4 separate regions of the Homo sapiens genome follow, and regions 1, 2 and 3 are each reported to be linked to region 4. The links are microRNA targets in miRTarBase. Many come from high-throughput screens and were not tested one by one. Region 4 holds a microRNA gene; each other region holds the end of a gene's coding sequence.

Region 1 (7,121 bases), not on the chromosome of region 4:
AAAGTTCAAGCAATCGGATATATGCTTTTACGATTTTTCACACAAATGAGATGTTATCGATTCTGTTCTACTATTTGTAGGGCAAATTCCTAGTAGCGGAATTTCTGGGTCAAAAGTGTGTGTGTGTGTGTGTGTGTGTGTGTGTGTGTGTGTGTGTGTGTGTTTTTACCTTAACAGTCATTACCAATTTACTCTCCAAAAATAGACTAATTTTATTCCAAACTACAGCATGAATGCCCATTTCCCCACATGCTTGCCAAAGTATGTGCCTTAAAACCTTAAATACGCTTACTGAAAATGTTTTCATGTATTAACTGCTTCTTCACATTCATTGCCCTTTTTTATTTATTGATTTCCTCCCACTGCAGGTGGCCATTTTGTCTTCTGATGCTGATATTTTCCTCCAATCAAAAGTCTTGTGGGAATAAATTATGTGTGTTTAATTTATCCTTAGGGCTTCTGGGTTTTGTGTCCCACTTAGAATGCTCTTCCATACCCCTACATTGGTGTTCCCTACCCTGACAAAAAATAATGCTATCATGAAGCCCCAAATGAGTAAGCCCTACCTTTTACATTCAAGCTTCCAGTCATCTTTTTGGTGACCCATTCTTTTTTTTTTCCTGTTTTTTTCCCCTTCATTTTAATCAACACTTTACAAAGTACAAAATATACTGCCTTTTTTGGGAAACATTAGGTACTTTTTTCTCTCCATCATACAGTTACATGAATCTCGAGGGCTTTGTGTTTCTTCAATAAGAACATAAGCATGAAGCCCCAGGAGGTTGGGATAGGATGGTCAGTTCTCCCCTTCACCTAGACCTCGGGACCCATGAAGCATCATTGCTATGGATGGTGACCTGTGCACGCCAAGTGAGGGCCAGAGGGGGCCGTGAGCAGGCAGGAAGTCCTCTGTATCCCCCTAAGATGGGGCTCTGGACCGGGCTCCTCAGAGCTCCACCATGCACCCACCATCCACTCATCCCCATCTCTCAAGATAAATTATTTTGGCATACAGCAAGATGAAGTCTTGGAATTGTTTTGCTGTTAGCACCCTAATGTTTTGGAGCCAACTCTGCTCAACTCTTCCTGGACCATCTTCTGAATGTAGGTAAACTGAGGCAGTGGACAAGAAAATGCACTGAGCTTGGCCTGTCTTGAAACCTGAATTTGACCTGCTTTTCACCCCACACCCCATACCAGAGTTGGGGTCTCCAACTTTGTTGGATGTCCTTCCAGGATGACCCCCCAATAGGTGTGGGGTTGGTGCTCCATTCTTAAACAGTCAGCCAATTATCACAAGATTCTGAGCAAATAAAACAATGCAGTTAAGTGAATTGAATAGAAAAAGTGTAGTAAATAGACTACTTAGGGCAAAAAAAACCTTTTAAAAAACTATCCTTAGAGTAATGAGAAAATAACACAATCATGAAACAAGAACAGCATACACAGTTGGCCCTCCATAGCCACAGGTCCCACATCCACAGATTGGAAATATTCAGGGAAACAAAGGATGCTTGCTTCTGTACTGAACATGTACAAACCATTTTTTCTTGTCATTATTCCCTAAACAATCCAGTATAACAACTATTTACATAGCATCTACACAGCATATTATAATCTAGAGATGATCTAAAGTATACAGGAGGATGTGTGGAGGTTATTGGCAAACACTACTCCCTTTTGTATCAGGGACTTGAGCATTTGCAGATTTTAGTATCTGTAGGGGTCCTGGAAACAATCCCCCATGGATGCTGAGGGACAACTGTATGTAATGAACATTCAGATAACAGGTCTACTTAGAAATTTTGAATGTTAATGAAAATTTAAAACTTCATAAAAAGGTAGGAAGATAAAGTCAAAGAAATCTCCCAATAAAAATCAGAAACAAGAGAAAAGATAAGGAAGTTATAGAAGTGATCCAAAAATCTAGTTTTTGAATAGTAACACTTTCAGACAGAGAGGAGGAAAAGTGTGATAAAAATCAAATGAATAATTAAAGAGACTTGCTCTCAGTGGGTGAAATGGACACACCTGAGGTGTCTGAATATTTGAATGTCGTTCATCTTTGTAGTCCCAGAGTCAGATACAAATCAGATAACCCAAATATTTGAAAGACTAATCATTACCAAAGTTTAGGGTCTTTGAAATAAAATGAATAAAGGAGTAATGCTTGAGAAACAGAATTACTGAGGCTAAGTCCTCTTGGTATTAATAATGAATACAATCATTTTATAATCTAGCATTCAATATCTTGCACTGGTAGCAAATGAGCTGTACCTGTAAACTGTCGAAATGAGAACAAAACTACTGTGGCCTAATCACGAAAGTGGTCAGTAAGAACACCCCTGATATAGAGTAGCAAGTAGAGAAACCAGAGAGCTAAATTTCTCATCAAAATTATTTAAAGTATTTGGCAGAGGAGGAGATAAGTCATACAAAAAAACATTTTATTTTGAGACAGGGTCTCATTCTGCCACTCAGGCTGGCGTGCAATGGCACAATTACAGCTCACTGCAGCCTCAACGCCCAGGCTCAGGTGATTCTCCCACCTGAGTCTCCTGAGTAGCTGGGACTACAGGGGCACGACACCACACCTAGCTTATTTCTTATATCTTTTTGTAGAGACAGGGCTTCACCATGTTGCCCAGGCTGGTCTAACTCCTGCACTCAAGCGATCCACCCACCTCAGCCTCCCAAAGTGCTGTGATTACAAGCGTAAGCCACTGTACCTAGCAATATGGAAACACTGTATATGCTAACAATTATTTCACCTTTAAAATACATAAAATAACATCCTAGTTATCATAAGGCTCACAATAGAACACTGATCATTAAAGCTAAAGAGTTTAACTGTGCAAACAGGAAAGATTAAGAGTATAAAAACACAGTATGTGATGTCATAGGATTGTAAAAATAAAGCTATTATGGAATTGAGAAAGGTAAACAGAAAAATGGGATGGTTGACAGATAACTAGTACAGGAAACAAGTGAGCAAACCTCTTAAAAAAATCCTGCTTTAAATGCCTGCATTTACTCAAATCATTTTAGAGGAGATAAAAGTCAGTGGCTCACAACTTTGGGCGTAGGGAGGAGAGACATCACTTAATAAAAGACTAAAAAACTTAAAAAACTCCGAGGAGAATCTAGTAAACAGGAAACTTCTTTTACCTCCCTCATCTCTGCTTTTAGTAAAACAACTAAGTATTTGTATATTCAGATAATTATATGGAATAATTATATGGAATGTCTCTCCATGTAAGCCATATCTACAATAAGATCTTCCCAGCAAAACATAAGTTCTTTCCACAAGGTCCATAAATGGACTTTAGATATCTCTGGATCCCTACTCTATCTCTTACAAATGTATGTAAATTCTGTGTATGTGCACATCTTTCCGTAAAGACATCTGCTTTTAGTAATAGCTTCCAGAACTAGCTTCAAAGTTATACTGCTTCAGAATGAAATATCTTGTCCATTCATTCTTATAAGTCAAAAAATGTCTAGTTCATTATCTTTATACTTAGCAAAGTAACATTTCAAATACTCTCCTAAAATATGACTCTTACCATAAGGGGATACCCTAATTAATGACTCTCTTGATGTTGGACACTTATCTTTAAAAAAATATAGAGTTGCCCAGAGTATTTTAAATAAACATTGTGTGTGTAAGAAAAAAACTACGCTGAATACTTTAATGCAGTACGAAATTCACAGCTAGAGAAAGGCCCTACTGATCACCAATTGTTCTTAAACATCAAGTTTTCCCCTCCATCATTTAATCATATTACCACTTTTCTATGTGCTTTTTAGTTGTGTTATGGACATAAAAGCCATGAACTAATTTTTTTAACTGGAATACTATTATCCCTACCCTACAAAATTCCTACCATAAGCTGAAAAAGTTATGTGAGGTACTGAATCAAATCACATATTCTATCTTGAGAACACTACACTAGCATTTAACACCATGGAGAGTTAAACATGGCTTCAGGGTGTAATTGCTGAACCCACACCCAGCTCAAAAATAGCAACTGTAATAAACGTAATGCTGTTATACCGTTTTCCTGAGATTACTCAACACCTCAGAGAGGAGGATCAAAACAATTATTGTAGGAGTTCAGACAGGGCGGTGGGAGAAATTATAAGAGGAAATTATAGAAAGAAGCAAACCTTCTTGGAAGGCCAGGAGGTTCTGCAAAAGCTTCAAAAGACAATTTGGCTGAAGGCAGCTGAATTCTCTTAAAAGCTTAGGTTAGATAACAAGGGGATGTAAAGGAATTGATCTAGGTAAGTTAGTTTACTCAGGCTTCGGAACCTGGAACCTGGCCTTTAATCATTCGTGCACAGGACTGCTCTCTTGGTGGGTGGGGGAGGGGAGCGGGCATGTTAATTACCCACACGTGTGTTGACTCAAAGCTTTTGTCATTAAATCTGTACTAAATAAATACAAATATTGCTGGCTTATTGGGGCTTCACTCTCGCTGTACTCTCTCGTCAGCGGTGCTGAGCAGTGAAGTCCCCTCATCACTCTGTCAGGCAAAATACCTGTGTCAGGGTACATTTTTTCATCCATAGTTCAGCCAGGGTCTGTGGGTCAGACCCGGCAAATTATTTTCTGCCTCAGCAGATTACTTGCTTTAGTTGATGTGTAATAACGCCCTTCTGCAACCCTTAATATAGTCCCGAAAATGCAACCAAAATGCTCACTTTTTAAAATTCTTTTTTTTTTTTTGAGACAGTGTCTCTTTCAGTCACCCAGGCTGGAGTGCAGTGGCATGATCTCGGCTCACTGCAACCTCTGCCTCCCAGGCTCAAGCCATTCTCCTGCCTCAACCTCCCAAGTAGCTGGGATTACAGGCACCCACCACTACGCCTGGCTAATTTTTGTATTTTTAGTAGAGACAGGGTTTCACCATGTTGGCCAGGCTGGTCTCGAACTCCTGACCTCTGGTGATCTGCCCACCTCAGCCTCCCAAAGTGCTGGGATTACAGGCGTGAGATACTGCACCAGGCCAAAAATTATTATTTAAACTGAGAAATAAAAAACCTTATTACTGAAGACATACAAGCTTTAAGTGTGAGAAAGTATCATATGGCTAGAACGAACACTAAATTTTACTGCATTTCTTAAACGTGTATGTGCCAGGCACTACGTTCAATCCTTTAGATATATTCTTAAACTTCACAATTGTCCTGATGGTAATCTATCATCCATTCACATTTTACATTTGAGAAACAGTATTTAAGAGAGAGAGATCTTAGAGGTAACATAACTTCTCTAAGATTAGCTACTAAGTGGCAGAATCAGGACTCTGAAACACAGCATTGCCTGACCACAGAGCCTCTGCTTTTCAATGTCTTAGCATTTTGCCTGCTCAAATTAAATTGAGAATCCACTAGAAAGTGTAAGTCTTATTGATGGTGGGCCAGTAGTATTACCTGTGTATCTCCTATTGTATATTACTACACATGTAGTAGCTACCCAAAGATAGCTGACTAAAGGAAGCCCATGCCCTACTGCAAAACAGAATAGCTTCAAGAAGAATGCATGATTTGGCCCATGGAAAACAGATCAAATGTTTTGATGAATGGCATGTATAATATCAGAGAAAAGTAACCCTAGAAGGAACTGTTATATATATATGTCTTATTTTAAAATAACAGCATGAGCCCATGAAGAAATAACCATTCAAGAGTTATCAGTGATGACTATTAAAAAGCAGATATTTTACCTCTCAACTAAATGTTTAATTAAATAGGAACACTGAAGGTGCATGTAACTTTTTTATTGAGGCACAACAAGGCATTGTAACTTGCCTGGACTTGAGGCAGTCAGTTTAGTAAGCTGAACGTTAATACAGTTAAGGATTAAGTGCAAACAATATACATTCACAGCTTGACTAGCGAGGCTACATCACAATTTATAAAGTGCCAGATTAGTGCTAATTGTCATTCAGCTTGATTTTTCACCTCAGGAAGGAAAACAAAAAAGTAAGGACCTCCTCCCTCTAGGAACAAAAACATTTTCCTAAACCAATCAGTCATGAGGGCAAAGACTACTTTTCCTTCAATCCCACTAATTAGAACACCATCCTTTTATTGTCAATACTGTACTGACTTTCAATCTTGATAAAGAAGATAGCCTGAAAACGTAGAATATTTCCAGCTACTTCCATAAATTGCTCCCCTGTGCAGACGTAACCATATCTGGTCTCCCTGGAAGAGCTGAAGAATTGCATGATTGCTAGCAGTTTCATGGTCTGGAGCACCATCATTGGCATAGGCTGATACCAAGACCTCTTCATTCTTCATGAGGTTGACATACAGTGGCACATTCACTGCCAGCTTTAGCATGTGAAAAATGAAAACGTAAGTGCCATTCACTGGGCAATTAAATCTACCAAGCTGAAGATCAAAAGTTTCTCCTAAGTTGTTCAGAAGAAGATCAAACACAATAGGTTGGTCTAAAGTTCCAGGGGCCAGATTAGAGGTTCTGGCTGCTGAGAAGGCAACTCGCATCTGCTGAGGCAGAGGGTAGACGTGTACTGGCAGTATGGTGGCTGCTGGATTTGTCACTGGCACATCCACAGGGGTCATGCTACGGGAGTCTCCTTGTCCAGAGTCACCACTGTTAAAGGTTTCGTTGTCTCTTTCTGGGCTGCTCACCTGAGAAGAATCACTCCACCCTGCTGTTTTATTAGCAACAGTGAGTTTCTCATAATGAAGCAGTTAGCTTTGAACACAATATTTAACATTAGTCGGCTACTGAAACAGACAAAGATACATTTTATAGTAAATTCCAAAACAAAAGCAATATATAGCTAGATTATACTTTTCTAGATTTTTCTGGTAATAGGTTTTTACATACTCTTCTAAAGCCAGAAAGGTCCAAGATAATCTTGTCTAACTGATCCTTTTTTAAGATTAAGAAAATGTGGCCCCCAAAAGGCCAGATAACTTAGCAAAGTCTAAAACTCAGGTCTGAACACTTTTTACTTCATCTTCCTCCCATAATTCTTAATTTCTCAGAGGTCATTCTACAAAGCACCTAATGTAGAAGGTCTCAAGAAAATGGAGACTACATAAAAGAACCAATTTTTAGAACTACTAGCCACTAGCCA
Region 2 (7,106 bases), not on the chromosome of region 4:
AAGAATAAAGGGGAAATAATAAATGAAAATGAACTGAAGAATCATTCACTGAGAATGCAAAAGAGACGAGAGGTGGAATTAAGAGTCTTATTCCCCAAAACTGAAGGAAATGAGGAAAAAAATAGTAAGTTGAGAAAGACAGCAGGTTCTTATGCAGTGAAAAATGAGAATCTCTTGATAATGTCTCTTTTCTCCTTAATAATAGCCTCACGTCATTAGAACATAGCATTTTTTATTGTGGATATGCTTTTTTTGTTAGATTGGTTAATTGATATATAAAATATTTTGCTATATATGTTGATTCTCATGATTTGTTAGGGAGTGAGTTTTTTCTTTTTTCTTTTCTTCAACTTTTATTTTAAGTTCCAGGGTACATGTGCAGGATGTGCAGGTTACATAGGTAAACGTGTGCCGTGGTGGTTTGGTTTGCTGCAGAAATCATAACATGACCCGGGTATTAAGTCCAGCATCCATTAGGTATTCTTCCTGATAGAGCATAGCATTTTTAATTTTTTTTCTCATTTATTATTTCATTTTACCTAAATTACACTTTCTTGGAATGTATCAGTATTATTAATCTTTATTTAGCATTTGAGGAAACTAAAACTCAGCAGAGTTAAGTGACTTAGCTAATGAGCAGTTCTAAGAGTACAACAGAGATACTCTGACATGTTAGAAATGCTGCTTCACTACCACACTGTAACATCACTGCAGGATGCACCTAAGTTAATACACACTCTGTGCAGAATAAAGAGAGCTAAGCCGATATGAGGTATGAGTGTGAAGAAAACAAATCTATCAGAATATCAATCTTCCCCATAACTTCTCATTCTATAGCTAAGGAACAGGACAGAATAGAAAAGGAACAAAGGAACAGGACAGAATAGAAAGTCAGAAAGATCCGGTTCAGCTTCAGTACTCACAAACTGTGACTTCGACAACTAGTTTAGCTTCCTGAGGTTCCTTTTCTTCTTCAATAAAATGGACATTATAATACCTACCTCGCAAAATTGTTGTGAGGTTAAATAACACAAATGTAATTTGCCTAGTATATTAGGTTACTTTACCTCTTTTTGCTGGGATTTTAAGTCTCCTATGTCATTCTTTTTCAGCTTCTGGGATGTAGGGGAGCCCAACAACATAGCTACCCTGGAGGACTGTGCCACCATGAGAGACTCTTCAAACCCAAGGCAAAATTGGAATGATGTAACCTGTTTCCTCAATTATTTTCGGATTTGTGAAATGGTAGGAATAAATCCTTTGAACAAAGGAAAATCTCTTTAAGAACAGAAGGCACAACTCAAATGTGTAAAGAAGGAAGAGCAAGAACATGGCCACACCCACCGCCCCACACGAGAAATTTGTGCGCTGAACTTCAAAGGACTTCATAAGTATTTGTTACTCTGATATAAATAAAAATAAGTAGTTTTAAATGTTATAATTCATGTTACTGGCTGAAGTGCATTTTCTCTCTACGTTAGTCTCAGGTCCTCTTCCCAGAATTTACAAAGCAATTCACTACCTTTTGCTACATTTGCCTCATTTTTTAGTGTTCGTATGAAAGTACAGGGACACGGAGCCAAGACAGAGTCTAGCAAAGAAGGGGATTTTGGAAGGTGCCTTCCAAAAATCTCCTGAATCCGGGCTCTGTAGCAGGTCCTCTTCTTTCTAGCTTCTGACAAGTCTGTCTTCTCTTCTTGGTTTCATACCGTTCTTATCTCCTGCCCAAGCATATATCGTCTCTTTACTCCCCTGTATAATGAGTAAGAAGCTTCTTCAAGTCATGAAACTTATTCCTGCTCAGAATACCGGTGTGGCCTTTCTGGCTACAGGCCTCCACTGCACCTTCTTAGGGAAGGGCATGCCAGCCATCAGCTCCAAACAGGCTGTAACCAAGTCCACCCATCCCTGGGGCTTCCTTTGCTCTGCCTTATTTTCAATTGACTGAATGGATCTCACCAGATTTTGTATCTATTGCTCAGCTAGGACCCGAGTCCAATAGTCAATTTATTCTAAGCGAACATTCATCTCCACACTTTCCTGTCTCAAGCCCATCCATTATTTCTTAACTTTTATTTTAGCTTTCGGGGGTACATGTTAAAGGCTTTTTATATAGGTAAACTCATGTCGTGGAGGTTTGTTGTACAGATTATTTCATCACCCAGGTATTAAGCCCAGTGCCTAATATTGTTTTTTTCGGCTCCTCTCCCTCCTCCTACCTTCCGCCCTCAAGTAGACTCCAGTGTCTGTTATTCCCTTCTTTGTGTTTATGAATTCTCATCATTTAGCTCCCACTTATAAGTGAGGACATGCAGTATTTGGTTTTCTGTTCCCATGTTTGCTAAGGATAATGGTCTCCAGTTCTACCGATGTTCCCACAAAAGACATAATCTTCTTTTTTAAGGCTGCTTAGTATTCCATGGTATCTATGTATCACATTTTCTCTATCCAATCTATTGTTGACTCACATTTAGATTGATTCCATGTTTTTGCTATTGTGAATAGTGCTGCAATGAACATTCGTGTGCATGTGTCTTTATGGTAGAAAGATTTATATTTCTCTGAGTATGTATCCAGTAATAGCCCATTCATTTATTGCATAAAATTCTACCAATACTGATGACGTTATTAAAGAGTACATCAATAACGTGGCAGCTTTCATAACCATGTTTCTTGCACAAAGTGCCATGAGGAGACCCTCAAAATTCAATCACTGGACACCACGTGTAATCACTGAATGAGAAAATTCAACTGGACAAGTGAATATAACACATCAGCTTTCATTGCAAAAGTTTATTTCTCTTAGGCATTGTGACAATCTGGTTTTCAAATCAACACATCTTTAAGCCAATTATTTAACCTAAAAGTAATTTTAAACATACTTTCAACTTTCTAATTCCCTTTTTTAAAATCATGAACATCAATAAGGAGATGCTGAAAGACTTTTTTTTTGTTCATTGGTGTTTCCCTGAAGGTGGCTATAATTTAAGTTTTATTTCTAGATTGAAAGACATATGGAAATATTATTCCATATTATTTCTCCATATATATTTAGAATTTAAGTTTAAAGACAAGTTTTAAAGACAGGTTTATAAAACTAAACTTGTCTTTACAGTTTGCCAAGAAAAGAAAGAATTGCTAAGGGTTTAGTGGTTAAAGATTATTGGAACATAAATTATCTATTAGGAAAATTATTTTTTGAGAAGTAGATCATCCAATTGAAATTGTTTTAAAGTATAATATCTTATAAGTGGGGTTACACAAACACTTTACCACCTTCGGCACCAGAAAACCCAGACATTTTCAAAGAATAGTAGATTAATTCATGATACATATTCTTAAAAGCATATTCCCAAAATAAACTACTGTTAAGATTTACATATTACTATATGGGTCCCCAATTTTTTTAAAGAAAAATTACTATTTTTTGTAAAAATGATACATGTTCATTACCAAAAATTCCTACAGATCACAATTATAGAAAGATGAAAATTTTTAAAATTCCAATTCCACGTTGCAGTAATAATTATCATGAACGTCACTCCAGGAAACTTTTTATGCCTTTAATGGGGTGCAGGAAATGCTACCTCAAAATATGGCACCTTGGGAACTGAGAAAACCGCAAAAACGGGAAGTCCACTCTCATCTTTCTCTTGCCTTTCTTACCGGAAGCAGGCCATAGCATCTAGGAAGGTCATCTCTGACCTTCTTCCTCCTTTCTCCTCTGAACACTCTCCTATGACAGGTGTCCTGCTCTATACCCAAAAGGAAAGAATGTCGTACAGGGAAGCCAAGAAGAACCTGAACAAACAGGCCTTGCTAAGTCTCATTAGGTTATTATCATTAGATCATATCGCTTTTTGTCTAACCATGTTTTTTTTTTCACAACTATCCACTTCATGAGGCTTAGCACAAAATTTACATAGATTTCTCTGTTTTTTGAGTGTTCATTTCTGAAGGCTCTCATGTCATGTAAAACTTACGTTAAATACATCTGTATGGTTTTCTCTTGTTAATTTGTGTTTTGTTATAAGGGCCTCAGCCATGAACCTTGCAATTGGTGAGAAAAAGATGTTACTTTTTCTCCCCTATGACTTCAAGAGTTAGATGAAAAGATGGAAAAACAAAGAGTTAAAAAAACCCAAATATATATATATATTTACATGTATACACACATACACACATGCATTGACACACTTTTAGAAAGGAATTATACAACAGATAATACTTTAATTTTTTAAATTTTATTTTGGTTTTGATTGACACATAATAATTGTACACATTTGTGGGATACAATGCGATGTTTCAATACATGTGTATGCTCTATATTAATCAAATCAGGGTAATTAGCACATTCATTACCTCAAACGTTTAAAAAATTGAAGTGAAATTGAAGAATTACTGAGTTCAAGAATGTTACAGCCTTTATAGATTATGAAAAAGAGTTATTTCCCAGAAGGTCCCTCTGAAGTAAAAAACAAAACAAAACAAACAAAAAATTATAAACAATCAACAATTAAGTCAAATGTTTTTGCTCTCCTGTTTCCCAATCCCCTTTTCTACCTTTCCGTTTCCTGATAATGACTCCTAAAATCATTGCACGTGGGTGGAGCAGAGCAAGGTGGTCTTTATACGTGTGTGCATGTATATGCGGGAGGGGGAGAGGGACGCATGACTACCCCTCAGAGAGTTAGATCCCAGACAGTGTAAAGGGGAGATTGTGGGGGAAGCAGGAGACAGTAAGGATGTCAGAACGCCAGTGGGTTCAGCAGGGCATCCTGGTGGGGGTTGGACTGTCCCAAAGTCTCAAAGCCTGAGCTAGAGTGAGGAGGACGCCCATACGTGGGGGTGGTTGAGCAAAGGTGTCTGAGCCGAAGCAGGAGGACTATCTAGGAGGGCCACAGGGCACCGGGCAGGGTGAGGTGGATGTCCACACAGGTCATTCAGCACAGGATGGAGAGGTAGAGCCTGAGCGGGTCAGCATATATGTCGTGCAACCAACTTTAAAATTTCGCACGGTTTACTCTTGGGTATCTTAGAATTGTATTGCCATTGTAAGTGTAATATTATTTTGTACATTTTGCAGAGTATTATATTGTTGATTTTTGTATAATAATAATTTATCCAGAAACACTGTTTAACTTTCCTAATTTTTTAAAACATTTTGTCCATACATTCCCTTTTATTTTCTGTGTAGATAATTATACTGTCTAAAACACTGAGCTATCCAGTACAGTAGCCACCAGCCACAGTAGACTATTAAGCACTATCCTAATTGAGATATTCTGTAAGTGTAAAATACACACTAGTTTTTTTGATAATTTGAAAAAAGAATATAAAATATGTCACTAAGAATTTTATATGGATTACATGTCAAAATGATAATATTCTAGATATGTTTGTTCAAATAAAATAAGTTATTAGAATTAATTTCACTTCTTCGGGCTTTTTTTTTTTTTTTTGCTTTCTTGATATAATTACTGGAAAATTTAGACATATGCAACTCACATTTTTGCCTTTCACTATATTTCCCTGGGACAGTTCTGGTCTAGAAATAATGATAGTTGTGGGTTTTTAAAACTCCCTTCCAGTTCTTTTGGTCATATTGAGCTGGCTAGGAATGCCAACATATTGTTGCATAAAGCTGCTATAGTTTTGTTCTTAAACTTAAAGAAAATGCTTCTAATGGCTTACCATTAAATCTAATAGTTGCTACAGGTTTGGGGTAGACATCCTGCAGAAAATTCCTTTCATTTCTTCTTTGTTAAATGTTTTAACACTAAGTGGTTTATTGATTTTACTAGATGATGCTTTAGCAGCTCTTTTAAAATGTTGATAAGATTAATTACATTAATAGATTTGCACACTATGTACATATATGCACATTGTTTAAAAAAACAAATTCTTCTAGAGGATTGTAATTAAAAATAGCTGTTTCCTGCCCACTTCTGATTCCCACACCTAAGTGGCAATCGTATTCAACCGTTTAGATGCTTCTTTTCTATTGAGTTCCATGTTTCTATTTCTATCAAAAGTTTATACTATAATTCCTTGATTTTTTTCAGTTTTAGATAATTTCTATGAGCTCCACACTAATGAAAACAAGAATAGTCTTCTTTCTCTCTCTCTTTCCCATCCCCCTGCTATCACTATATAATCATTTATTTAAAAATCAGTATTCAACATTTGCACTGGTATGAATATGTAAATATTATTCACAGCTGAACCATTTGCTGTATTCTTACTACATATTTTTAATTACATTTTGCTTTTTATGGAGTTAATATTGACATCTTTTCTTTTTTTGGAGACAGGATCTCACTCCGTCCCCAGGCCAGGGTACAGTGGCACAATCATGGCTTCATTGGAGCCTCGACTTCCTGGGCTCAAGCAATCCTCCCATATCGGCTTCCCAAGTAGTTAGGACTACAGGTGCACACCACCAAACACAGCTAATTTTTTAATTTTTTGTAGAGACAGGGTCTCACTTTGTTGCCCAGGCTGGTCTCAAACTGCTGGCCTCAAGTAATCCTCCCACCTTGGCCTCCCAAAGTGCTGGGATTACAAGCTTGAGCCACCATACAGGACCCATTTTTTTATATTTATCTAGCTTTCTGCGTACTGACATAATTCACCTTTTAACTCTTCAGAAATGTATATCACCTCTCAATTCATTCAAATGCATTCCATCTATCCCATAATTTTGTAGGGAAAAAAATCTTCCTTGGAAAATTTCCTTCCTTTCCCAATCTGAACGGAGATTGCTCTGGTGATTTGCTTCACAGCCATTACTTTGCTAAGTGTTATTAAAAAAGAAAATATTTTGTAATTTTAAGGTTATTTCAAATTATGTTGCAACAATGCAATATAAATGCTATTCACTTATAAGAACAAGATATAAATCAAAACTATATTGTTAAGTAAAAAATGCAAATGTTTAAGAATATGTAGATTATATTTCTATTCATATTTAAAATGTGGATTATATATCTATATATGTTTAGTATATAACATGTATGTAATTATATGTTTATTATGTATAGTACATAGTTTATATATAGTATATATTCTTATACACTTTATATGTAGTACATATAGTATAACCA
Region 3 (7,121 bases), not on the chromosome of region 4:
GACAGGGTCTCCCTCTGTTGCCTAGGCTGAAGTGCAGTGGTGCCATCATAGCTCACTGTAACTTCAAACTCCTGTGCTCAAGTGATCCTCCCACCTCAGCCTCCTGAGTAGCTGGAACTTGAGGCACATACCACCACACCCAGCTAATTTTTAAATTTTTTGTAGAGATAGGGTCTAGCTGTTACCTACACTGGTTTTGAACTCCTGGCCTCAAGCAGTCCTTCTGCCTTGGTCTCCCAAAGTGCTGGGATTATAGGTATGATCCACCACCTCCAGCCAAAATCTCACTTTAAGTGGGGTCCCTAACTCCAGACATGTGATAAGCTGTGGTTCACAGGCATAAAGAACATCCAGCCTGGGGCCCCGGGGTCAGAGTTTTCCCTCGCATTGTCCCCTGGGTCCTTCATCCCTCCTAATCTTGCAAACCAGCTGTCAATTGGGTTGAGATGGTATCTCTTTCATAGGGTCATTATGAGGATTAAATGACTTAATATATGTAAAGCACTTAGCTTAATGCCTGGCAGACAGTAAGGTATGGAGTAAGTTGTAACCCTTATTATTATTGCTGTTGCTGTTAGCAACAGAGTGAGGAATGCTAGGAGTGACCATGCCCAGCACCGAATGAGGCCTTCATAGCCTTGGGCTAAAAGAAAAAGAGCAGAAAGGTGAACACAGGGGAAGGCCTCAATTTCAACACAGATGCATTAGACCAAGGACTCTGAACTCACTTTCCCTGGAGGTGGGGGTGCTATCAGCTGCTTAATGGAGCATCATGGAAAATGTGGGACTCAAGGCCTGAAGGACTCCATTCCTAAGAGATGGGAGCAGGAGACATGCTACGGAGTTTGAATCTTGCCTAGCACAGGGATTTCTGCCTGCTGGAAGGGCTCTGTCAGGGCCTAGTGGAAGCCCCTGCCTCAGTGGGGCAAACTGCCACTGGACACACCCATCATTCATCATCACCTCTCTGGGACAGTAGTAGCAGCCAGGCACCTCCAAAGAGCTTGACAACAGAGGAACCCGCTTCGGCCCCTCCTCTGAAGACAGGATCCTGCGCTACTCCAACTCTGAACTGGTTCAAGGTGAGAGACGTCATCCACAGAGGCCACAAAACCAAGAGGTGGATGCCTCATTGTTACTTCATGCTGTCTGGGAGCAAAGAGAGGGCCTTAGGCACAAAATCCTCCAGACCCGCATCTGCCCCTTGGCTTTCTCAACCCTTCACTCTCCAACTTCTATAAATAACCTGTACAGTGGCCAGGCACCGTGGTTCACACCTGTAATCCCAGCATTTTGGGAGGCCAAGGCGGGCGGATCACTTGAGGTCAGGAGTTCGAGACCAGCCTGGCCAACATGGTGAAACCCCATCTCTAACAAAAATACGAAAATTAGCCAGGTGTGGTGGCGGGCATCTGTAATCCCAGCTACTTGAGAGGCTGAAGCAGGAGAATCACTTGAACCTGGGAGGCGGAGGTTGCAGTGAGCCGAAGTTGCACCACTGCACTCCAGCCTGGGCAACAGAGCAACACTCTGTCTCAAAAGAAAAGAACCTCTGCAGAATGAGGGGAAGCAGGGAAGCAGGCAGGGGTGAACAAGATGGCCATGAATTGATAATTACTGAAGTTGGGTGATGGGCTCATGGGGATTTGTTATTCTACTCTCTCTACTTTTTTGTGTTTGAAAGTTCATAATAAATAATGTTGCTCAAAGGAAGCTATTAATAGTTTGAGGCCAGGCAGGGTAAAGAGCATCTCCTAGATTTTTTTTTTTTTTTTTTTTTTTTTTTTTTTTTTTTTTTTTTAGAGATAGGGTCTTGCTTTGTTGCCCAGGCTTGTCTCAAACTCCTGGCTTCAAGGGATCCTCCCACCTCGGCTTCCCAAAATGCTGGGATTACAGGCACAAGCCACCACATCCAACCTCCCTCATATTTGACTAAGAAGTCTCATAAATCTGAGAACACCTAGCAAGGAATTAAGGCGAGGGTGTGGCACTGTTCTGGCTTCAGTCTATCACCAGGCAGAGTCCACGCATTCTTCCCAGGGAGAAAGAAGCAGTGACAGCTCTTGGGCTTTGAGGGAAATGATTCAGCGGGAGAAAGAAGGTGGAGAGGGGCTAATATGCAGATACCATTGCTGCAGGTGGCTCTGCCCCTAAGCACTGAGGAGGGCACTGGTCCCTCTGGCCCCACCCAGCCTTCACCCCAAGGTGAAGTACGCTTTCTCAGGTCCCCAAGGATGGGTGGCCAGGTCCCCCACTGGGAGTGGAGGTCTCACTCCCTTCCTTGGGTTCTGACCTCCACATTATCTGGCTGTGAGGGTGACCTGCCTGGCTTTCCCCACCAAGTGCAGCTCCCCGCAGCTGAAAGCCACACTCTCAACACAGGACTCCTGAGATCTGACACTGGCCAATTCACACCCTGCTTGAAGCTGGCATTTGAGAGGCCTTCAGGTTGACAACAGCAGCAACAAGTTTGCTGTTCAAAGTAGGCCAAGTCACGGCTTTGAGCGGCATCATTTGAAAAGTGCTGGGATCAGCCAGGCGCAGTGGCTCACTCCTGTATCCCAGCACTTTGGGAAGCCAACGCAGGTGGAGCACTTGAGGTCAGGAGTTCAAGAACAGCCTGGCCAACATGGAGAAACCCCGTCTCTACTAAAAATACGAAAATTAGTCGGGTGTGGTGGCAGGCCTCTGTAATCCCAGCTACTCGGGAGGCTGAGGCAGGAGAATTGCTTGAACCCGGGAGGCGGAGGTTGCAGTGAGCTGAGATCATGCCACTACACTCCAGCCTGGGCAACGGAGTAAGACTGTCTCAAAAAAAGAAAAAGGAAAAAAAAAAGTGGTGGGGTTTGGGTGCAGTGTCTCACATCTGTAATCCCAGCACTTTGGGAGGCTAAGGCAAGATCTCATGAGGCCAACCTGGGCAACATAACAGCATGACCTCATCTCTATAAAAAATTTAATTTGGCTGGGCGCGGTGGCTCACGCCTGTAATCCCAGCACTTTGGGAGGCCGAGGCGGGCGGATCACAAGGTCAGGAGATCGAGACCATCCTGGCTAACACAGTGAAACCCCGTCTCTACTAAAAGTGCAAAAAAATTAGCCAGGCGTGGTGGCAGGCGCCTGTAGTCCCAGCTACTCTGGAGGCTGAGGCGGGAGAATGGCCTGAACCCAGGAGGTGGAGGTCGCAGTGAGCTGAGATCGCGCCACTGCACTCCAGCCTGGGTGACAGAGCAAGACTCCATCTCAAAAAAAAAAAAGAAAAAAAAATTTAATTAGCCAGGCATGGTGACAGGTACCTGAAGTCCTAGTTACTCAGAAGGCTGAGGCAGGAGGATCGCTTAAGCCCGGGAGTTTAAGGATACAGTGAGTTATGATTGCACCACTTCGCTCCAGGCTGGGTGATTCTCTAAAAAAAAGAAAAAAGAAAAAGATGGGAGGATGGGAGGCGGGGCTAGGGGACTGGGAAGGTCCCTCAACCCTTTCTACATGCCTTACCCAGGGTATCTCCCATCATGGCTGGTTACTGTGCTAAAATTATAATTTTTTTTCTTTGAGACAGAGTATCACTCGGTCACCCAGGCTGGAGTGCAGTGGTGCGATCTCAGCTCACTACAACCTCCGCCTCCTGGCGGGCTCAAGTGACTTATCTTCCCACCTCAGCCTCCCATGTAGCTGGGACTATAGATGGGCGCCGCCATGCCCAGTTACTTTTTGTATTTTTTACCTAGGCTGGTAGTGTGCTAACATTCTACCACTTGGGCAACAGTCTTCGGGGCTACATACTGCCTTTTTTTTTTTTTTTGAAACAGAATACCACTCTGTCGCCCAGGCTGGAGCGCAGTGGCACAATCTCGGCTCACTGCAACCTCCGCATCCTGGGTTCATGGAATTCTCGTGCCTCAGCCTCCTGAATAGCTGGGATTACAGACGTCTGCCACTACACCTGGCTAATTTTCTTATTTTTGTAGAGACGGGGTTTCACCCTGTTGGCCAGGCTGGTCTTGAACTCCAGACCTCAGGCGATCTGCCCACCTTGGCCTCCCAAAGTGCTGGGATTACAGGCGTGAGCCACTGCGCTCGGCCCATGTTGCCTTTTTGAGATACTTTTTTCAAAGCTACCCTGGAACGGTAATACAATAAAACTAGTACCTGTGCATAAATTGTTAACTGACCTGCCCAGCATGGGTACCTAACTGGGGTTTAGGGTAGGGGGACAGAGGGCTTTTTAAGATTGGTGGTGGGGGATGGGGATTAATACAGACAGCTCGGGTAGGGTCCACTCCTGGTTCCAGGGTGCAGGTTGCTGGACTTGGAGCATGGGATGAAGAGATGTTCAGAGATAGAGATCATTAGGTTGCTGAACTCCCCTAGGGCAGTGGAGTGAAAAAGCTGTAGCAGCCAAGGCAGGGTGTAGATCCCTGGAGGCTGACGGCTTGGGGTGGGGCCACAGTGAGCCCAGCCCCTGATGGCTCTAGTTCTTGTCCCTTGCAGAGCTCAGAAATGGAGGTGGCTCCTGTGCCTTGTCCAGCAATGGTTCCCTGAAAAGAACCCATAAGGATACCCCCAATCCACCCCAATGTGTTTCTGGTGTTATTGTAGATAATCTCCCCAACAGTGGGTGAGCTTGGGGTGAGGGAACCTGGCTGCTGGGAGTGGAAACGCCCTATATCCTCCATCCTGTACAGCTGCCCAGTGGACATACCTCTCTCCCCAGCAATTTCTCAAGGCACAAGATAAAGTAAGGGGCAAATACAAAGATAAAGCTGTGAGGCAGGAGGGTCTGAGTCTGCCTCTAAAGGAGTAGCCAAGACTCCTGTTTCTCTGCATTTTTCTTTTTCTTGAGACAGGGTCTCGCTCTCTCACCCAGGTTGGAGTGCAGTGGCACGATCCTAGCTCACTGCAGCTTCAAGCTTCTGGGCTCAAGTGATCCTCCCACCTCAGCCTCCCAAGTAGCTAAGACGACAGGTGCACCACCACGCCTGGCTAATTTTTTAAACTTTTTTGTAGAGATGGGGTCCCTGTTGCCCAGCATGCCTGGACCCTCAACACTTAATAGTGATAATAACATATATCCAACCCTTGGTAAATGCCAGGACTCATCCTAAGACCTACATCGATAAACTCCTTTAATCTTCACAACACTGGGAAATATATATATATACTTATCCTCCTTTTACAGGTGAGAAAACTAAGGGACAGACAGATAAATCCCTTGCCCAAGGTCACAGAGCTGGTGAGAGGCAGGTTGGGACGCAGGCCTAGGCTGCCTGTGCTGCAGAGCTGCACCCTTGACCACTGTGCACTCTGCCTCTCATGCCCTCAGCTCTACCAGGTTGGGCAGGAGAGAGATGGGAGAAGCAGTGGCCACTTGCTCTGGGCCAGGCACTTGGCAAACACCTGTAGGTTCAATCTCAGAAGAACCCAGTGAAGAATGAGCCAGATACTCACTGTCCACGTGGAGAAGCAAGACCAGAAGTCTGACATCTGCCAAAGCCACACAGCCCCGGAAGTGAGGGAGCTGAAATCCAAACCTCTGCCTGAGCTCTGCCCACCAGGTGTCTCCTCCCCAGCCCATGTAGGGAGCTGAAGAGAATGGAGACCAGAGGGGAGGGAAAGAGGAGGCTGGAGAGGAGCTCCACAGGTCTTCCTCAGGCCTGACAGCTGCCCCTGGCTTCCCTGAGGTCCACAGGAACCTCCAGACCTTCCCAGGATTGCCCAGCAGGGGAGGGGGCCCAGTGGGGCAGGAACTCAAGGCAGTTGGGCTCCTGGAGAGCAGCCACCCTGCCGCTCCTGCCTGCCTCAATGCAACGGTCTCAGGCTGGGCTGCCAGGATGGGAGGCAGGTCTTGTGGAGTCGCCCACACACCACATACCTGCCCTGAGGCCTTCAGGGACCAATGCAACAGGAGAGGCATTCCCAAGCACCACATGTTCCAGTGGTCCCTCCTGCTCCACCTGGGCCAACAGGGCTGAGGCCTGGAGGAGGAAGCTCCTCTGGAGGACATGGATGATAACCTGGATTGCCAGTGGGGAAGGTCTGGAGCACTGGGGGCAGCCCAGGACCCAGAAAGCCAAGGACGGGGACCCACACAAGGCACCGTGGGGACAGAGATGCTGCTCTCAGGACTTGGTTCAGCCAAGGCATGTCCTGCTGCCAGGCCTGCAGTCCCTTAACTCCCCTCTGACCCAGCCTCCACAATCCCCAAGAAAGGGACAAGGGGCTTCGGAGAGGGGCCAGGTGTACTGCAGGAACGGAACAGATGGGTGGTGGGAAGAGCCCAGGGCTTCACTAGTGCAGACGCCGCCGGTACAGCACCACCAGGAGTGTGACTACCAGCACCCCTGTCACAGCCACCTGGAGCCACAGAGCCCCAGGTGAGGGCCTGTGGCATGGCACCTCCCTCTCCTGGAACTTCCGGTCGGCTTGTGGCCTGGGGCCGCCATCCGGGTCCGCAGGTGGCCCAGGGTTGCCCTCCAGGAGCTGGATGCTGGGGTTCTCAGCCACGTGGATCCCAAAGGTGCCCTCGGACTTATACTCATTCTCCTCTGGGCCATGGCAGGGCCCCATGCCCAAGGAGGTGCTGGCACTGATGGCAAGATCCTCGAAGCAGCCCGAGAACGGGCTGTCTACCTGGGATGCCAGCACGCCAGGCTTACTCAGCTCCGACCCAAGGCCCCTATTCTCAGAGCTGCTGTCTAGCCAGGCTGAGCTGCCTCCAGTGGCGCCGGCGGGTGTTGGAGCTGCTGGGGTCTCCTGGGAAAGAAAGGAGAGCACTGGAAGGGACTGGGGTTGGCAGGGAGACGAACCTGGTAGGGCGGTCCCATTCCCAGGCCAGGGCATGAACTAACACTCCAACCCCTCAATTCCCAATCTATAATGCCCCTAGGCCACCTTTTCTTGGAGCAGTGGGGGTAGAGGGGACCAAGAATCTGCACCAATGGTGGCCTCCTCCAGGGCAGCCTTTCCCTACTCCCTGGCCTGCCTGTGAGCTCATGCCCACCTGGAAGCCTTTGGTAGGGCGGGGCTCCATCCTGCACTGACATCCTGCCTGGGCCTGAGAACTAGAGAGCAGCCACAGGGTCAGAGGCCTGGCCATGTGCCCAAAGGGCCCTATGGACTTG
Region 4 (7,121 bases):
GCTCGGTTCAATCCCACTGGCCTTCTTGCTTTTTCTTAAAGATGCCAGGGGGCTTTCCATGGGCCTTGCCCTCCTCCTGAAATGCTCCTACCCCAGACCTTCCTCTGGTCCACCCCACTCCATTCCCACCCACATCCTCAGAGAGAGCTTTCCAGACCCCTGTATTTAACACAAAGGTCCACCTGCTTTTACCTCTTTCTGTCACTGTAACCCGCTTTCCCTTTCCCCATAAAACCTAGCAGTGGACAAAATTACGCTTCCTAATTCATGTGTTCTCATCCGTCTCTTCCACCAGAATGTAAAGTCCACATGAGCAAGAACTTGATTTCATTCACTGCTCTCTGCTAAGGTCCAGAATCACCTAGAACACAGTGTGCACTCCATCACTATTTATGGAATGACCAAGTCATTCCTTGTTATTTGATCAACTCATGAACCATGTAGTTATGCTATAAACAAAAGAATCTGATTTTTTTAAAAAGAGAGAACTTTATCGAAACAAAATCATGGTGGCCAAAGTCACCAACCCTCTCAATAGCCATTATGGCCATGGGCAGGACACAGCTCTGGCAGGAGAGTGAGCTCAGGGAGACGCCTCAGAAACAAAGCTCAGACTGCTCAACTAACTCTCCACAAACTCCAACAGATGTGGATGCCAAGTCTCCCCAGAGGGCGGTGCTGCTTCCAGAAACCCTTCCCTGGCAAGATTTGGCACTCAAAAATTCTGCCCTGGAACAAAAGCAATAATGATGACCAATTACCTATCAGTCAGTCCGGCTGATGACAGTAACACTACCGAGCCAGCATGTCTCCAGAGATTCATCTTACCAAGGGTGAGGGTCACTTGGAGCAGGTGACAGACGTCTTGTGTGAATGGGCCTCTCACTGGTCAACTTCCCCCAATAATGTAGTGCAGACACCAAAGCCCCTTCCAGAAAATCACAGCCTTAGAAGTAACCATCTTCCTCAGAGATTCGATTCTGGTCATGGCTGTGGCACATGAAGAAGCTAGTGCACTGCGATGGCCCGTTCACATACATACCTTGGGTGGGAGGTGAAGCCAAGACCCCTTGCCTGAAGGCGGGACGCTGTCCGGGAAGCCTTCCAAAGCAGTATTTGATACTGAAAAACTGGATGTCCCTGTATGATTCGTCATAAATTAAGCGAACACAGCAGGGATAACCACTCTTCAAGTACCGAAGGCTGACGGTGACGGCCCACGTCTTCACCAGAGTCTGCCTTCCTTCCAGCTAGTCCGCCTGAGGATGAATTGGGGACAGAGGGTTAGGAGAGTTGAGGGGTGCACAATGTCAATCAAGCCCTTGCTTTCCAGCCAACCATGCATTCTTGCCCCTGGAGAGGGACGAAGGGCAACAGCTCCTTCCAGAAAGCTTCCCCAGCAAGATCCATACTCAAAAAAGGCACTCCCTCATGAGACTGGGCATAAAGAAAGCAAACCCGGCAAGGAGAAGGTCCTTTCAAGTGCCAGAAAATAGCATGGCCTAGGAAACCACCACCTTGTCTTCTGAGCTGATGTGGCCTCCAGAAGTCACTGGATAGGTAGGGACTGTGGATCAACTGACATACACCATTTATAAAATGTACGTTCTCTGATCAACCATCCATTCCCCTATCATGGACAGCACCCTGCCTCCAGGTCAGGGTCCTGCCAGGGGACATCTCCGGGGAGTTTGTCCTGAAAAACAGTGGTCCAATATGATAAGCCACAAACCCAGGCGAGGCCCCACGGTCAGCCTCAACCCTGCTCTGCCCCCGAGGCCTCCAGAGCCTGGAGGCCACAGCATGTGAGTCTTACTCCAATGAAGACACAGGCTCTGCCATGGGTCATCCTTACGAGTATTTCACGAGGTGCTGACACCAATGCCTCCTTTAATAATTCCTTGGAATTATATCCAGGAAAGAGGTGATGCTGAGTTGCATTTGCAGCAGAGAAAGCATTGTAGAGGGAACCTGCCATTGACGAGACCTCCCCAGGTGTGTCAGAGGAGTCCCCCTGCCTCCTCTTGTAGGTAGCCTGGATGCTGAGGGTCAAGGACAGAGAAAGCCTGTGACCTGGCTTGATAATCTGTCCTGTGGCCTCTGGCTCTGCAGCACCTCCTGGATCGTGGCCTCGTGCTGATGGCCAGAACCTTTCCCCGGAGTTGCCCTCCCTTCTGGGGGACCCTCATGGGCAGGCTGCATGGATAATGAGAATTAATGACCCATTTAATAGGTATCATCAATTCAGCCCCCTCTCTGCCTGGGACACGGAGTGGGGCTGAGCACCGAAATGGTCTTGCCCAGAAGTCCCCCAAGGACGGGTTGCTTGGGCCATTGAACATTGGGCATCGTCAGCAGACCCTCCCCCAGGTACCTGGTGATGGTGCTGACATAGACCTCCTCTCTGGTGGCGGGACACCTCCACACATTCTCCCACTGTGCAGGAATGAGGCCAACTGTGTGGTCTTTGTCATGAAAAATGCAAGAGCACTCCGGTGGTTCCTCACCAAGCCCCACGCCGCGACACGAGCACATCGGGTCCCCCGGCCAGAGCCTGTATCACTTCTAGGGCTTCTCCTGAGGGTGGAATGAATTCTCTGGGTTAGCTGTGCAGAGAACACATTCGTCAACAAAGTTCATATCCCTGCGTCACCTCTGTGCCCATACCTCAGGCGAAGCTGACAGTTTTCTTACTGTGAAGCCGGCACCTGCAGGCACCCATAAAGAACTGACTCCACACAGGGACCCCAGCGCACTGGCCACCTCAGATAGGACAAAGCCACGGAGGCAGAGAGCAGTGGGGCTTTGCAGCCACTCCAGGATGCTGCCCCACACAGGGACCACATCCTGAAGGGGGCGGGGCTTGGTGCCACTGCCCTCCACTGTGTTAGTCCATTTTCTGGCTGCTGATAAAGACATACCCAAGACTGGGCAATTTGCAAAAGAAAGAGGTTCAATTGGACTTACAGTTCCACGTGGCTGGGTAAGCCTCACAGTCATGGTGGAAAGCAAGGAGAAGCAAGTCAGGTCTTACGTGGATGGCAGCAGGCAAACAGAGACCTTGTGCAGGGAAACTCTGCCTTATAAAACCATCAGCTCTCATGAGACCCATTCACTATCACAAGAACAGCAAGGGAAAGACCCACTCCCCTGATTCAATTACCTCCCACCAGGACCCTCCCACAACACAAAGGAATTCAAAATGAGATTTGAGTGGAGACACAGCCAAACTATATCATCCACCAAACGGGGGATCAAGGACAGCCTCCCTTCTCCATAACCAGGGGACACGCTGGAGTCCGTGTTCTCCTCTCAAACCAGGTGCTGTGTGCAGGAAGCCCTCCAAGGCAGCATCACAGAGCCGAAGATTCATTAGCTGCATGGTCTCCATCGGGAAGGAGTGAAGGGAACCTGGCACCGTGCCAGTGTCTATGAGCACCAAGCAATGGACCAGGAGACCCCACCAGGTCGGCTGGCAGAGGGAAGCTGACCTGAGGAGGAAGTGGCACTGGGCCAGTGACCTGGGTGAGGAGTGGGAACACAGCCCAAGTCGGCCTGCCCTTCACACACCCACAGAGGTGCTGGACTTCATCCAGGGAGCCACCCTGAGAGGAAAACAGGCTGTCCTCAAAGGAGTCCGCATGGAGGAGTTAACCTCTCCTCAAGTGTCCCAGTGGAGTGGTAAACCTTGTCCTTGCCCCCAGGGACCCACCCTGAAAAGCACTGGGTCCAGGAAGGGACCTAGCCCTGTGGCTAAGCCACAGACCCAGCCACTGGGGGAAGGCACAAGTTGGCATTCAAAGAGGAGGGAACCTCACATAACTCGCAAAAACACATCGCATTCACAGCAAACACAGCAAAGCAACCCAGGGCTCTTCCCTCCACCAGCCTCACTTCCAGGAAGCTTCCCTCACGCAGCACGGAGCCGGGGCAGGGGCTCTCAGCTCACACAAGGCACACACTCTCACGTCTCCTGTGGGGGCGGCCCTCCGAGGCAGAGTCTGATATTCAAAAAGAGGTTAACCATGTATTATTCATGATGAATGAAGCGAACATAACACGGATAACCTCTCCTCAAATATCCTTGCATAGTTCTGAAACGAAAACCATGGCCTCTTCCCCACCGTTGTCTTTGCTTCCAGAAGATTCTTCTTGGGATGAGCTGAATCCCAGGGTTGGGGCAGGGAGGTGTTCACATCCTGCAAAGAAAGCACACGTACTGGCATTGACCTTCCATTCCCGTACCTCAGTCTCAGGGCCCAGGCAGCCCTGGCACCAAAGTCAAAACCCTGACATTGGAACCATGCTCAGAAAGACTTCTAAGGCAGGTTCCATTAAAAATATATGAAAGCTTCCTCCACGGATTCCTGAAAGACGGGATTTGATGACGAGAACCAGCAGAATGCATGTCAGAGATAAGCAAAGCCATCATGAAGAATTCTGTTTCCGATAAAATGGGGTGTCACTGATCCCTGAAGACAGGGTCCCTACCGCAGAGATGGTCTCAGTTCCTGGAATTTCCTCCCGATGACTGCTTGGAAACGGAGGGTCACAGAATTCCAGGGCCCAGCACATCAATAATGAATAAGCGTGCCGTTGACCTGCACCCGACAATCTTGCAGCAGCTTGACACCGGCGGCCCCTCCCTGAAGCAGGTCTTGTATCTGGGAAGCCCTTTGAGGCATGATTTGATTTTAAAGAAAAGTAATCTCATGCTATTTACGCATGTGAAAGTGAACCCTTGTTCACAAACCAAAACATGGCACGTTGATTCTGGGCCGTTCTCCCACGATGGACGGTATATGGCATGTGGGGAGACAGGCGACACATATCACAGGGAAAGCACCTGGTCTCCAGCCCCAAACCACTGTGAGTGTTGTCCACAGACCGGCGGTATTAGCATCACTTGAGAACTTGCTAAAAATGCAGAATCTTGGTCCCTGAATCAGAATCTGCTTTTTAACAAGATCCCTAGGTGATGAAAATCTTAGGAGCATTTTTAAAGTTTGAGAAACACTACTCTAGCCAACTATTCATATGCACACGCACACAAACACACACACACACACACACACACCCCAGAGGTGCTGTCGACCACAACGTCTTATTCCATGAGAGTCTGTCTAAGATGGGGTGGTTCCCAAGGAAGGCACGAAGCCATGCCACGTCCACCAAGAATAATCCAAATACCCAACAGGCAGCTGCTTAGGAGCTGCCAAAAAGTAGTAATAGTAACAGGAAATGTACGGAGTTTTTACTAATGTTTGCATTCCCTACAGGAAGTGTTTCATACTCAGAATGAAGGCTACAGATAGGAGAGGCTGGACCCAGGTTCCCCGGTCCACCATCTACCTAGAGAGAGGCTTGACCCCGGCATCTCTCCAAGGAATTCCTCGTGGCTAAGATTTAATAACAAGAAGAGAAAGAGAGATGAAATAATTGTGAACATCTTCCAATAAAAAGATATGGCACCAAGCCCCTAAATGGCATCTCCACCCCAAAGCTAGCATTTGTCCAAGGAAATCACACTGGTGGCTTGCATTCTGAGATCACTGGATTCATCATTATAAATCATCAACACAGTCACACTCCATGGTGGGGCAGGCACCAATGTCCCCTCACTGAAGTCAGCACTGTGCTTTCAAAAACTTCTGAAGCAAATTTGGATACTAAAACAATGGTTGTCCGATATTAATCATCATAAATATAGAGACCATACTACGGACAGCCATTCTTTAAGCACCAAAGAACTGTGCCATCAAGAAGAGCTGGGCATCTTCTCCAAAGTTGGTGTCTCTTCCAGAAAGTTCTTCTCAGGTAGTCCAAACAATGAGGATTAGCAGGTCAGCTTCACACATTGAGAGTCAAGCCCATGCCTGGGGGTCAGTCACACTCTTGGGCAGGGGAAGGGGGTCTGGCCCCAATGATCGGTCCCTAAGGTTTGCTTCATGTCCAAGAAGTGCCTCCAAGAAGCAGGATTTGATAAGTAGCTTGAATGCTGCGTCACCCACAACACACACCCATGGCCAATGCAAATCCCTGATAGCACCAAGGAGTCCCGTGGCCCCCTGCCAAGCGTGGCCCCGCCTCCAGGGTTCTGAGGTTAGGGCACAAGTGTCCCCACCACAAACCAACTGCATGCGCCCTCATCCCCACCCAGGCGTGAGCCCCTGGGAAGGGCTGATGCGTGCATCCCTTTACAGAACTTGTCATGGCGTCCAGGAAGTCTGCCGAGGCAAGATTTGATACTCAAAAAGAAATTGTCCTTGTATGATTCATCATAAATAAAGCGAACACACCAAGGATAATTTCTCCTCAAGTATGAAACAGCAGCACGGACCACCACCTCCAGGTCTTTGGCTCAAGGTTAGATGGTGACTGCTTCGTGGCAAACCCAGTCACACACTCGCTCATGCACACACACCACGCACACACAGGCATGCACAATGCATGCACCAAGTTTGACCTCTCTTTAAGCACCAGGGAAGCAAGATGCCATAGAATCCTCACTCAGCTTGGCATCCTCGCTCAAGACTCCTTCAAAGCGTAGATAGTGGCCGAGGTCAAGAACCCAGGGACTGTCTCTCTTAAGTGGAGCAAATGTTCTCGGCACCCCTGCTGACCCCCACTGCATGTGGCATTCTGTATCAAAAGCCACTGTGTGAATGGCTTAGCTGCCAAGCATCAAGAGCATCACTAGCCCCCATTGTAAACACCGTGTATGCTCTGGGCTTCCTAGTCCATTCCATACCCGATGAAGGACTTGACTTCCATGTTTTGACACTGTTCCAAAAACCCATGGAGAGATTTTAGTCATAAAACCACCACCACCACCACCACCACCACCACCAATGATAGTTTCACAGCACACAAGGGTCCTGGCTACCACCTACGAAGTGCCGACCACGGGGCTCTGCTCTGAGCCGTGTACAAGTCTTAACTCGTTCAGCCCCAGCAGCCCCAAGAAATGGACGCCAATGTGATTCCCCTTTGACATGTGAGACAATGGGCACAGCACGATGAGATCCTTGCCCAAGGTTGGACGGTTAGTAAATGTCAGAGGTGGGATCCAAACACAGGAAATCGAGCTCCAGAGTCTGCGCTCTTGATACTGAAAAAGT

What was found. Region 4 holds the annotated microRNA hsa-miR-655-3p (AUAAUACAUGGUUAACCUCUUU, at 4,013-4,034, opposite strand). A microRNA usually pairs through its seed, bases 2 to 8, with sites in the 3' UTR of a target mRNA and lowers its output. Matches are read on the target gene's strand: a 7mer-m8 pairs with bases 2 to 8, a 7mer-A1 pairs with bases 2 to 7 and ends in A, and an 8mer does both.
Region 1: the mRNA of CAPRIN2 is a reported target of hsa-miR-655-3p. Seed matches in the 3' UTR shown: 8mer at 5,853-5,860.
Region 2: miRTarBase lists CLEC4E as a target of hsa-miR-655-3p. Seed matches in the 3' UTR shown: 7mer-A1 at 2,166-2,172.
Region 3: miRTarBase lists MAVS as a target of hsa-miR-655-3p. Seed matches in the 3' UTR shown: 8mer at 4,252-4,259 and 7mer-m8 at 4,130-4,136.

The regions. Positions count from the first base shown.
Region 1 is chr12:30,703,782-30,710,902 of GRCh38, forward strand. It overlaps CAPRIN2 (caprin family member 2), which reads right to left. Exons shown (of 19, transcript NM_001385503.1): 19 at 5,772-6,689. The coding sequence ends at 6,121. Among named protein-coding and RNA genes, the nearest start is that of IPO8, 11 kb to the left of the region's middle.
Region 2 is chr12:8,528,816-8,535,921 of GRCh38, reverse strand. It overlaps CLEC4E (C-type lectin domain family 4 member E), which reads left to right. Exons shown (of 6, transcript NM_014358.4): 6 at 1,113-2,617. The coding sequence ends at 1,284. It also overlaps a transcript of CLEC4D not described here. Among named protein-coding and RNA genes, the nearest start is that of CLEC4E, 8.5 kb to the left of the region's middle.
Region 3 is chr20:3,865,315-3,872,435 of GRCh38, reverse strand. MAVS (mitochondrial antiviral signaling protein) reads right to left here. Exons shown (of 7, transcript NM_020746.5): 7 at 1-6,753. The coding sequence ends at 6,289. Among named protein-coding and RNA genes, the nearest start is that of PANK2-AS1, 20 kb to the left of the region's middle. RefSeq lists an enhancer at 5,923-6,424.
Region 4 is chr14:101,046,523-101,053,643 of GRCh38, reverse strand. MIR655 (microRNA 655) reads right to left here and starts at 4,094; the gene lies at 3,998-4,094. MIR381HG (MIR381 host gene) reads right to left here. Exons shown (of 3, transcript NR_104192.1): 2 at 2,375-2,577; 3 at 1,849-2,042. It overlaps MIR539 (microRNA 539), which reads right to left and starts at 6,323; the gene lies at 6,246-6,323. It overlaps MIR889 (microRNA 889), which reads right to left and starts at 5,743; the gene lies at 5,665-5,743. It also overlaps MIR544A, MIR487A and MIR487B. RefSeq lists an enhancer at 6,878-7,121.